Linked DNA regions of Homo sapiens: regions 2 and 3 are each reported to be linked to region 1. Evidence: microRNA targets listed by miRTarBase, many of them from high-throughput screens and not tested one by one. Region 1 holds a microRNA gene; each other region holds the end of a gene's coding sequence.
The links. Region 1 holds the annotated microRNA hsa-miR-4717-3p (ACACAUGGGUGGCUGUGGCCU, at 1,477-1,497, opposite strand). A microRNA usually pairs through its seed, bases 2 to 8, with sites in the 3' UTR of a target mRNA and lowers its output. Matches are read on the target gene's strand: a 7mer-m8 pairs with bases 2 to 8, a 7mer-A1 pairs with bases 2 to 7 and ends in A, and an 8mer does both.

Region 1 (3,152 bases):
TTAGCGTCCAGCGCAGCCCGGGGGCATCCTGGAGGCTCTGCTCCTTAGGGCATGGTAGTCACCGCGAAGCCGGGCACCGTCCCACAGCATCTCCTAGAAGCAGCCGGCACAGGAGGGAAGGTGGCCAGGCTCGAAGCAGTCTCTGTTTCCAGCACTGCACCCTCAGGAAGTCGCCCGCCCCAGGACACGCAGGGACCACCCTAAGGGCTGGGTGGCTGTCTCAAGGACACATTGAATACGTTGTGACCATCCAGAAAATAAATGCTGAGGGGACACAGTCACAGTCTGTGGGTCACACGCGCGAGCGGTCACAGGGCTCAATCACTCGCCCACAATCTAGACATGAGGCTCTCCTTTCACATTTCAATCACACAAACGTGGGACGTTGCTTTTCCCAGAAGGGAGCACACGCAGAGAATACACTGAGGTGAAGGAACAGGCCCATAACACAAAGGAAAAAGCCGGCTAGATCAACGCCCGGTGACAGGCTCTTAGTCTAAAGACAAGAGCAGGTGGGGCTGTGTGGGAAGCACAGGTCTGGTGGGAGAGAAGCTGCTGGCATCAGGGTCACCCGTGGGCATTTGCCATTTCCCAGAAATAACTCCTCATCAGCTCCCTTTTTAGTTATTTATGGAGTCTTGCTTTGTTGCCCAGGCTGGAGTGCAGTGGCGCAATCTTGGCTCACTGCAACTTCTGCCTCCCGGGTTCAAGCCATTCTCCTGCCTCTGCCTCCCGAGTAGCTGGGACAACAGGCACGCGCCACCACACCCAGCTAATTTTTGTGTTTTTAGTAGAGACGGGGTTTCACCATCTTGGTCAGCCTGGTCTCGAACTCCTGACCTGAAGTGATCCACCCACCTCAGACTCCCAAAGTACTGGGATTACAGCCATAAGCCACCGTGCCTGGCCCCTTTTTATGCACTGTTTTGTGTTTTGTCTTTTGGAGACAGGATCTTGCTCTGCTGCCCAGCGTGGAGTGCAGTGGTGGTATCACAGCTCACTGCAGCCTCAAACACCTGGGCTCATGCAATCCTCCCACCCCAGCCTCCGGAGTGGCTGGGACTAAGGGCATGCGCCACCATGCATGGCTAAATTTTATTTTTAGTATAGACGAGGTCTCATGTTGGCCAGGCTGCTGCCAAACCCCTGACCTCAAGTGATCCACCTGCCTTGGCCTCCCAAAGTGCTGGGATCACAGGCGTGAGCCACCATGCCCGGCGAATGCACTATTATTTCTTATGGTTTTCTAAACCCGATTTGAACTTCTGCATTTTACATTCCCTTAGAATTCAGAGTTTTAGAAAAGACTTGTTTTCATCACTTTGGCTCATTTGGGACAATTTCAAGTCTGTGTTTTTATCAGTCTCTGGAAATTTATGAAAGCTGCAAATCGTCTCCAGTAGCTCTTTTATTCCCTTTAAACTTCTGCCATCTAGTTCCATGTTATAAAAAATATAACGTGTTTGGGCAGTGTTTAGGCCACAGCCACCCATGTGTAGCCACCCCTACACATGGGTGGCTGTGGCCTAAACACTGCCCACGAGAAAAGTTCTGAAGTGGGCCCTTCTGGCCCCACAGCCTGTCCGCAGGGGCTGTGGCCTCTAGGTCGGGCCTGGGGCTAGGAAGAGGGAAAGGTCAGTGCACGAGGCCACCCAGCTCCATGTCCATGCCCATGGCCCTTCTGCAGGGCATCCTCAGACTTGTTTTCAAGCCCATGTGTTAGAGATTTAGGAATGTGTCATTTTTCTCCTGTGACACCCTAAAAGAGGGTTGGGGAGAGCGTATAGGACTGAGGGCACAGCCCGCATGAGGCACACACGTGTGAGGCCAGCGTACACAGGACACGCACAGGAGATACCATCCTTCCCGGTAGCACGCTGCCAGCACCAGCAGGGGTCTTTAAGTAAGGACTGGCACAAGTAGAATGCCTTCTTAGGAAAATGATCCGCAGCTCAGGAGGCTGCTGCGTGGGGACCGGGAGGGGCAGGTGCATTCAGGGCGTCTGTGGCAGGGGCCCAGGGCTGCACCCAAGCCTGGAGCTTAGATGACCCCAGGAGCAGCAGGAAGGGCCCATCTGGCATCCCAGGGAAATCCTCAAGGCCTCTGGAAACTCAGTGCTGGAGCTGGGTCACCAGGGGTGCCCTAAGGAGCCTGGGACTGAAGCCTCAGGACCCTGCCCTGGCCGATTTTTGTCTGAGCTGTGGCAGTTCCCAGCCCACGGGAGGGCAGGGGAAAAGAGCCTTGGGCCCAGGGATAGGAGTGACCGGCCTATCCACGCTCCACCCTAGACCACGGAGGGGGGCCACACATTCTCTACGGACACTGTCCCCAAACAACTGTGGCATCTGACAGAGCCAACTCCTGCCCTGCTCCCAGTTCACCTTAGACCTGGGAAACGAGGTTTTGACTTCACTGCTCTGCATGGCCTGGTGCAGGGCTCCCGTGAGCAGACGGCCCATGGGCCACGAGCCAGGTATGTGGAAGAGCCTGTGCCTTCTGTCCTCCAGGCCGGCCCAGTCCAACGGCGTGGCTCAACTGAAACCACACCCAGAACTCGGAGAGGGGAAGACCTCGCGGTGGGGCGGGCCCAGGCCAAGCCCCTCCACTGCCATCACAGGTTTACAGCGGAGCAGAGGGGCAGGCCGGATACAGGCAGCCCAGGCCACAGGTCAGGGGACCCACACCAGGCCACAGGAACAGGCTTGCTGAGGGTATCAGAAAACCCCAGGTCACAGTGGTTTGAAAAAGAAGTTTATTTCTCAGCCATGTAGGCAGGAGGAGGCAGTCCAGCACTCGGTCACCTGAGGTCTCAGGGAGGCAGGCTCCATCTGCTGCCCCGTCATCCTGGTTCACGCCTCCCTCCTCATGGTCACCTCTGTGTTCAAGGAAGTGCTTGGCCGGGCATGGTGGCTCACGCCTGTAATCCCAGCACTTTGGGAGGCCGAGGCAGGCGGATCATGAAGTCGAAAAATCAAGACCATCCTGGCTAACACGGTGAAACCCCGTCTCTACTAAAAATACAAAAAAATTAGCCGGGTGTGGTGGCGGGCACCTGTAGTCCCAGCTACTCAGGAGGCTGAGGCAAGAGAATGGCGTGAACCGGGGAGGCGGAGCTTGCAGTGAGCCGAGATCACGCCATTGCACTCCATCTG
Region 2 (3,152 bases), not on the chromosome of region 1:
GCCAACCCCGCCTTCGACGCCGGCGAGGAGGTGGACGGGGCTGGCTCGGTCATCCAGGAGGTGGCCGCCCCCGAGCCGCTGCCCGCCGATGGCCAGAGCCCCCCACAGCCCTTTGAGCAGGGCGGGGGCGGCCCCAGCAGGCCCCAGACGCCGGCGGCCGCGGCCCGGAGGCCGGAGGGCACCTATGCAGGGACCTTGTAAGCGGAGCTGGGTGGCTGCGCGAGGGACCGAGTACTAGAGCTGCTTGCATGCGTTACTAATACAAACAAATGTGATCAAGCCACTTACCTACTGAACTGCTACTGTTGCCTGAGAAAAATGTGATTTTTATTCTGCTTGTATTTAAAATTGATGAAGGAAACAAATGCATTCATTATACTGTAAACAATTAGGCCACTGGCAGCCTCCTGCGAGGAAGTTCCCAGGGCTCCCTTTTGATATTCACAAGGTCAGCCTCCAAGTGTAGCTTCCCTCCCCCTTCTTGGGGAGGGTGGGAGGCCGCCAGGCCCCTGGTGCCCAGCCCTGCCCCTTCCTCCCTGCCCTTCCTGCTCCTCCTGCCCGGAAGACGAAGCAGGGGCCGGCGGTGGTCTGTGGCGAGGGGGCTGGGCTGTGCGTCACTGACCCTTCCTTCCTTCCCCATGGAACCTCTCTGGGGCGACGGGGCAGGGCTCAGGCTCCAGGGCCTAACTCCTCGTTTTTCCTTCTTTCGGAGACTCGGGGCCAGGCCCACCGGGCCTTCCACCTGTGTGGGGTGTGTGCACGAGTGTGTGTGTGTGCGTGTGTGTGCAGGGGTGTGGTGAGGGGGCAGTGATGGCTGTGGCCCACCCCTCGGGGTGGAGAAAAGGGTACTTTACTCTGCCCCCACACCCTGTCCTTGTTCTGCCCGATCCGTCTCGGCTCTGCAGCCCCTCGGTCCCCTGACCCCCAGGGCACCGCTGACCCCGCCTGGCCTCCCACTGTCCCGCCCGGGCCCACTGTGGGACGTGCACAGCTGATGTAGCACACGCTGCCCTCTGCCGCCTCAGCCACTTTGGGATTATGCTTGTCTTGTTTTTTTTAGGTTTTGTTGTAATTTAGATCTATTTCATATATGGTTTGGAAACTTTCAGACTCAATAGAACAAAAACTTTGGGTGGGATGGGTGTCCCTGTCCCCAGCCCACCATGGCTTGGGGTGGGTCATCTGTGGCCGTTAGGGTGCGTCCCCCTGCTCCCCCGCCCAGGGCCAGGGACCACTCGTCTCCCACTGGGGGAAAAAGGGGGTCCCGGGTGGGCGACTAGTACGTGTGAAGCTGAGCTCAGGGCCGGACCTGGGGAGCGGGGGACTCCGCTCGGGCAGGAGGCAGCGGCCAGGGCTGGGCCAGGGCGAGAGTCGGTCCTCCCGGTGCTGGGCTCCCCGTCTGCCTTGAGGGGTGTGCATGGATGGAGGGTGCCTGAGGCTGCAGGCAGGGGATGACCGGGACAGGCCTGGGCTGGGGCAGTTGGAGGTATGGGCACTGGTAGGGGACAGAGGGTTAGGGATCATGTTGGGGGGCCAGGGACAGTGGAGGAAGGGCCCATGGAAGATGGGGCTGTTTGGTTTGAGGCTGGAGTGCTTCCTTTGAAATTTAATTACTGTTTTTTAAGTGGTAGGGCTCACAGACTGTGTGAAGTCCTGTGTGAAGTGCTGGTGTGGCCACCTACCCAGGTGTCCCTCCCTTTTGTTTTGGAGGCCTGTGTCCTTGTCCAGGGGCAGCCCTCCTTCCCAGGTGTGGCCAGAAGAACCCCCCATCCCAAGACTTGAAATGTCTGTTGCTCACCTCTGTCCCTCCAGAACTCGGCTTCCCCATCTTCACTTGCAAAACAAGTGCAGCCCTGCGCCCATCAGCACCCCCTCCGGTGTGCACACAGGCCAGTGAGCGGTGGCCGACCAGCGCACCCCACTCCCCCAACCTCCACAACCCATCAAGCGGAGGCCGCCTCCGCTAGGGGAGGACCATGTGCTGCACCCTGGCCTGGGGACCTACAGGGTGTGGGTTAGACGCATTCCCACTGGGCGGCTCCTTTCTGCCCCGAAGCCCACCCCTGTGGCGAGGCCCTAGGAGACCTCCCGTGGGGCCGCCTCTACAGACAGCACTCAGCCTCCTGGGCTGCCTCCAGCCAGGCCCAGCACATGCCTGCCCTCCAGAAAAATACGTTGCTTTCCAGAAGGAGGTGGGGGACCATGGGCAGGCACTGTGGACGCTAACCTCGGCCCCTCCACCCATTCCTCAGGGCCCACGTCCAGGGGGACCAAGACCTGCATTCCTAGGGCTGCAGGTGGCTCAGTGGTGCAGAGGCATCCAGACCTTCTGCTGAACTAAGAACCACCCAGCCTAGAGGGAGCCTTTCTCTGCCTCTTCCTCCCCTGTCTTGGGCACAGGTGGGGTTGGAGCCCCCATGGGGCCCGCTGGGAACCTGGACCAAGCCTTCCTCGGAGATGGGAGGAAGCCGCGGGGTGGAGCAGGGGCAGGTAGGTGAGGTTGAGCTGCACTTGAGTTCCCTCTGGAGTTTCCTTCATCTGCCCCACACCCAAATTTGCACTTTAATTTGACCATCCCTGGGGGCCTGGCTGCTGACAGAAGGGCTCTCTCTGCCCTCCACTCCAAAGTGGGTGCCCCCCCACCCTTGGCCAGGACAGGGAGGGAGCCGCTGGCTGCTGCCGGAGGTGGTGGCTGCACAGAGGACGCCTGACTGCTGTTCAGGCCCGCACAATGTCCCGTGCCCCTTCCTCACTCGTTTGTAATCGCCGTCTGTTTTGTTCTGGGTAAGGAAGGCAAGAGCTATAGATAAAACTTAAATAATAATAATTTAATGTGAATGGGTTCTGAGCTCTCCCTGCGCCCCGGGCGGGCCAGGCCGAGCATTTTGCACTAATGTGTCCCACGGTGGGCGTGAGTCGGGAGTGTCTGTGGACGTGCGTGGCTGCTGAGCGGACCTGCTGTGTGCTCCCTCCACGTCCTGAATGTACCGTGGGGCGGGGGCGGCGGCCCGGGCTCAGAGGGGCCTTCCAGAGTGCCTTAGCATCCTTTGATCATTTTTCCCAAGGAAACCAATTAAGAAAGCCGGACCCTTCCCTCCTTTGTTTACAAGATGACTAATTCTAGAATCCGGGGTTGTCCTGTCCTGTGAGTG
Region 3 (3,152 bases), not on the chromosome of region 1:
CAGGTGGGCCGCGGCCCGGGCTTCCACGCGGGGACCTCGGCGTTGTGGAGGCACCTGAGGAGCGCGCACCGGCGGGAGCTGGAGAGCAGCGGCGCCGGGAGCTCCCCACCTGCCGCGCCCTGCCCGCCGCCGCCCGGCCCCGCTGCGGCCCCCGAGGGCGACTGGGCGCGCCTGCTGGAACAGATGGGCGCGCTGGCCGTGCGCGGCAGCCGGCGGGAGCGGGAGCTGGAGCGGCGCGAGCTGGCCGTGGAGCAGGGCGAGCGCGCCCTGGAGCGGAGGCGGAGGGCGCTGCAGGAGGAAGAGCGCGCCGCGGCCCAGGCGCGCCGGGAACTGCAGGCCGAGCGGGAGGCGCTGCAGGCGCGGCTGCGGGATGTGAGCCGCCGTGAGGGCGCCCTGGGCTGGGCCCCCGCTGCGCCGCCGCCGCTCAAGGACGACCCCGAGGGTGACAGGGACGGCTGCGTCATCACAAAGGTCCTCCTGTAGGGGTGTGGCCACTTCCCCACCCCAGGACAGCGCTTCTCCGTCCAATGCCAATGCCTTCAGACCCCGCTGGGACCGAAGCCGTAACCGAAGCCAGGCCCGCAGCCGCTACTCACTCGGAAGCTCCAGCTAACTGTAGGATCTTCCACACCCTAAGGCTTCAGCTTGAGAAGCACTTCGAAGCCAGAGCAGAACCAAAACTCACTTCCATGGGGTCACCGGGGGTGCCTGGGCGGCCTTTCGTGGGCATGCACGCAAGGAATTGGGGTGGCACACGGGACACCCGAGAGCTCCAGGAGCCCCGTGAACCCAGACCACCCAGTGCCATGGCCACTTAGGGCTGGGAACCCGAACCTGGTGACTTTGAAAGGATAGAGCTTCATTCCATACCAAAGACTTATCACACCATGTGCCTATACACCCAGCAGCCCAAGGTGGAGGGTGCGTGGAAATGAGAAAGCTTTTTACCCAAAAAAAAAAAAAAAAGAGTTCCTAATGCATAATCTGCCCAACACCAAGTTCTGAAGGGTGGGTGAGGGACGTCCCCTCTAGTTTCCATGACTGCTGTAGACCCGCATCATCTCTAGCCCTCATCGGGGCAGTCCCAGAGCCCGCTTTTTTACTGCCCATATTATTCAACCAATACCAGGTGCACTCTGTCTCCCCTCGGCCATCCTTCCCTTGCTTCAGACCTAATGACAAGTGTGGCACATATGTCCACTTTCAGGCCTCACATCTGCCACCTTAGCAAGACATCACCTCATCCCCTTGTCACTAGGAAGAGGGCTTCTTCCCCACATGTCGTCATAGTGCTCACCTCTGGGCTGAAGGGGAAAGCATCCCTCCGCTTAAGGCCACATCTACCTGTCATTTTCCATCCCATTCCTCTCCCACGTTTACTGGGTCTTTCCTCCTGTAGTATTCCCCCTTTCGCTGTCTCAGTCCCTCCCTTTCCCCCAGGCTCTTCTTCCTCAGCAATGTGCAGTCTCCCTTTCTTACTGAAAAGAAAGACTTAACCCAGAAGGGCCAACAAGTCCTGGCTGCCTATCCTTCCTCCCCAGTTTTTACTCCCTCACTCTGGGTCAGTTTTCTTTTCTTTTTTTCTTTATGTGTGTATATATTATATATATATATACATATATACATATATATATACATATATACATATATATATACATATATACATATATATATACATATATACATATACATATATATATATATATATATATGTATATATAATACTTTAAGTTCTAGGGTGCATGTCAGTTTTCTATGCTTCACCAGACTATTTCCAAGCTGCCACAATCTCCCAGTGACCAAATATGATGATCTATTTGCAGCCTTCATTTTGCTTAATCTCTCCCTTGAAATTGCTCTCTTGGTAGGTGGATCCTGTTTTTCCTTCAAAGAATTCCTTTTCCTGTTGCATACTGGTTCCCAGTTTTTCCATAGGCCTCTTTTTTTTCTTATTTTTTTATATTGAAAAATTCCACACATCCAGAAAAAGTTGAAAGGCTAGCACAATGAATACTCAGATACATACTCTCCACTTGGATTGAATAGTTGTTAACATTTTGCCAGATTTACTATTCTCTCCACCCCATGCATGTGTACATAGAATGACATTTCGACCCCTGAGTATTACCACATAGATTTCCTGAGCACAAAGACACCGTTCTACATGATTACATTAAGATGATCATGCCTAAAAATATAAACAGTAACTTCTTTATAGCCTCTAATACAGAGCCCTTAATCAGTATTCAACAATTGTCTCCAGAATGTTTGTCTTTAAAAACAACGACAACAACCAGGTCCCATCAAGGTTCATACATTCTTTTGGTTTCAACTCTAGTCACTTTCAGTCTACAACAACCCCAACATATTTTCCCATGATACTTTTTGAAGCATCCAGGCCAGCTGTCTTAGCAAATGTCCTCTATTCTGGAAGTGTCTGATTGCTTCCTTAGGCCTATGTCTACACTCCACTCGTGGCTCATATCCCTGCAGAGTTGTAATCTCCTCTGGGCCAGGGACTCCTGAATATCTCCAGGCCGAGTGTTCTCCCCGGGCCTGGAGAAAACCTTCATGCCCAATCCCTTGCTGCATGTCTCCACCCCTCCTTGCACATCCTGCCTCTATGAGTGGACGAGGCAAATCTACTCAACCCCACATCCCACCCCTCACCTGATAACTAACATTTACTGGGCACTAACAATGTATCAGGCACATACTACACACTTAACATGCATTGCTTTCACATACCAGCTCCATGGTAACATTGCGCTGGCTTTACAGCTAAAGAAACTGAGCTAGAAAGGGGTTAAGTATCCTGTACAAGATCACAGCTGGCCAGCAATAGAGGTGGGATCCCACTGCAGACAGTCTCCCCCACAGATGCCATGCTCCCACTGTACCACCATGTACTGCTTCCTGAGATCTCTGCTTCCTTCAGTCGACCCAGCTGACACCTGTTTCCTTCCTAACTCCAACTAATTAATTCCAGTTAATGGAATTGACTGGAATTAGTGACATTAATATTTACTGAGCATTCCCCATGTGTCATCAGAGCTGTGCTAAATGCTTTACAAGAATAATTACCTGCCATAAAGCAACCCTATGACATAGGTGCTACTATGCCCATTTTGTAGATGAGACAGGTTCAGGGG

Region 2: the mRNA of NACC2 is a reported target of hsa-miR-4717-3p. Seed matches in the 3' UTR shown: 7mer-m8 at 1,975-1,981.
Region 3: the mRNA of ZBED3 is a reported target of hsa-miR-4717-3p. Seed matches in the 3' UTR shown: 7mer-m8 at 886-892 and 7mer-m8 at 3,039-3,045.

Annotation. Positions count from the first base shown.
Region 1 is chr16:2,273,006-2,276,157 of GRCh38, reverse strand. MIR4717 (microRNA 4717) reads right to left here and starts at 1,538; the gene lies at 1,467-1,538. ABCA3 (ATP binding cassette subfamily A member 3) reads left to right here. Exons shown (of 33, transcript NM_001089.3): 33 at 1-277. MIR3677HG (MIR3677 and MIR940 host gene) reads right to left here. Exons shown (of 3, transcript NR_132988.1): 3 at 3,086-3,152.
Region 2 is chr9:136,008,565-136,011,716 of GRCh38, reverse strand. NACC2 (NACC family member 2) reads left to right here. Exons shown (of 6, transcript NM_144653.5): 6 at 1-3,152. The coding sequence ends at 201. Among named protein-coding and RNA genes, the nearest start is that of UBAC1, 49 kb to the right of the region's middle.
Region 3 is chr5:77,074,505-77,077,656 of GRCh38, reverse strand. ZBED3 (zinc finger BED-type containing 3) reads left to right here. Exons shown (of 3, transcript NM_032367.4): 3 at 1-3,152. The coding sequence ends at 483. Among named protein-coding and RNA genes, the nearest start is that of SNORA47, 4.5 kb to the left of the region's middle. RefSeq lists a silencer at 1-219.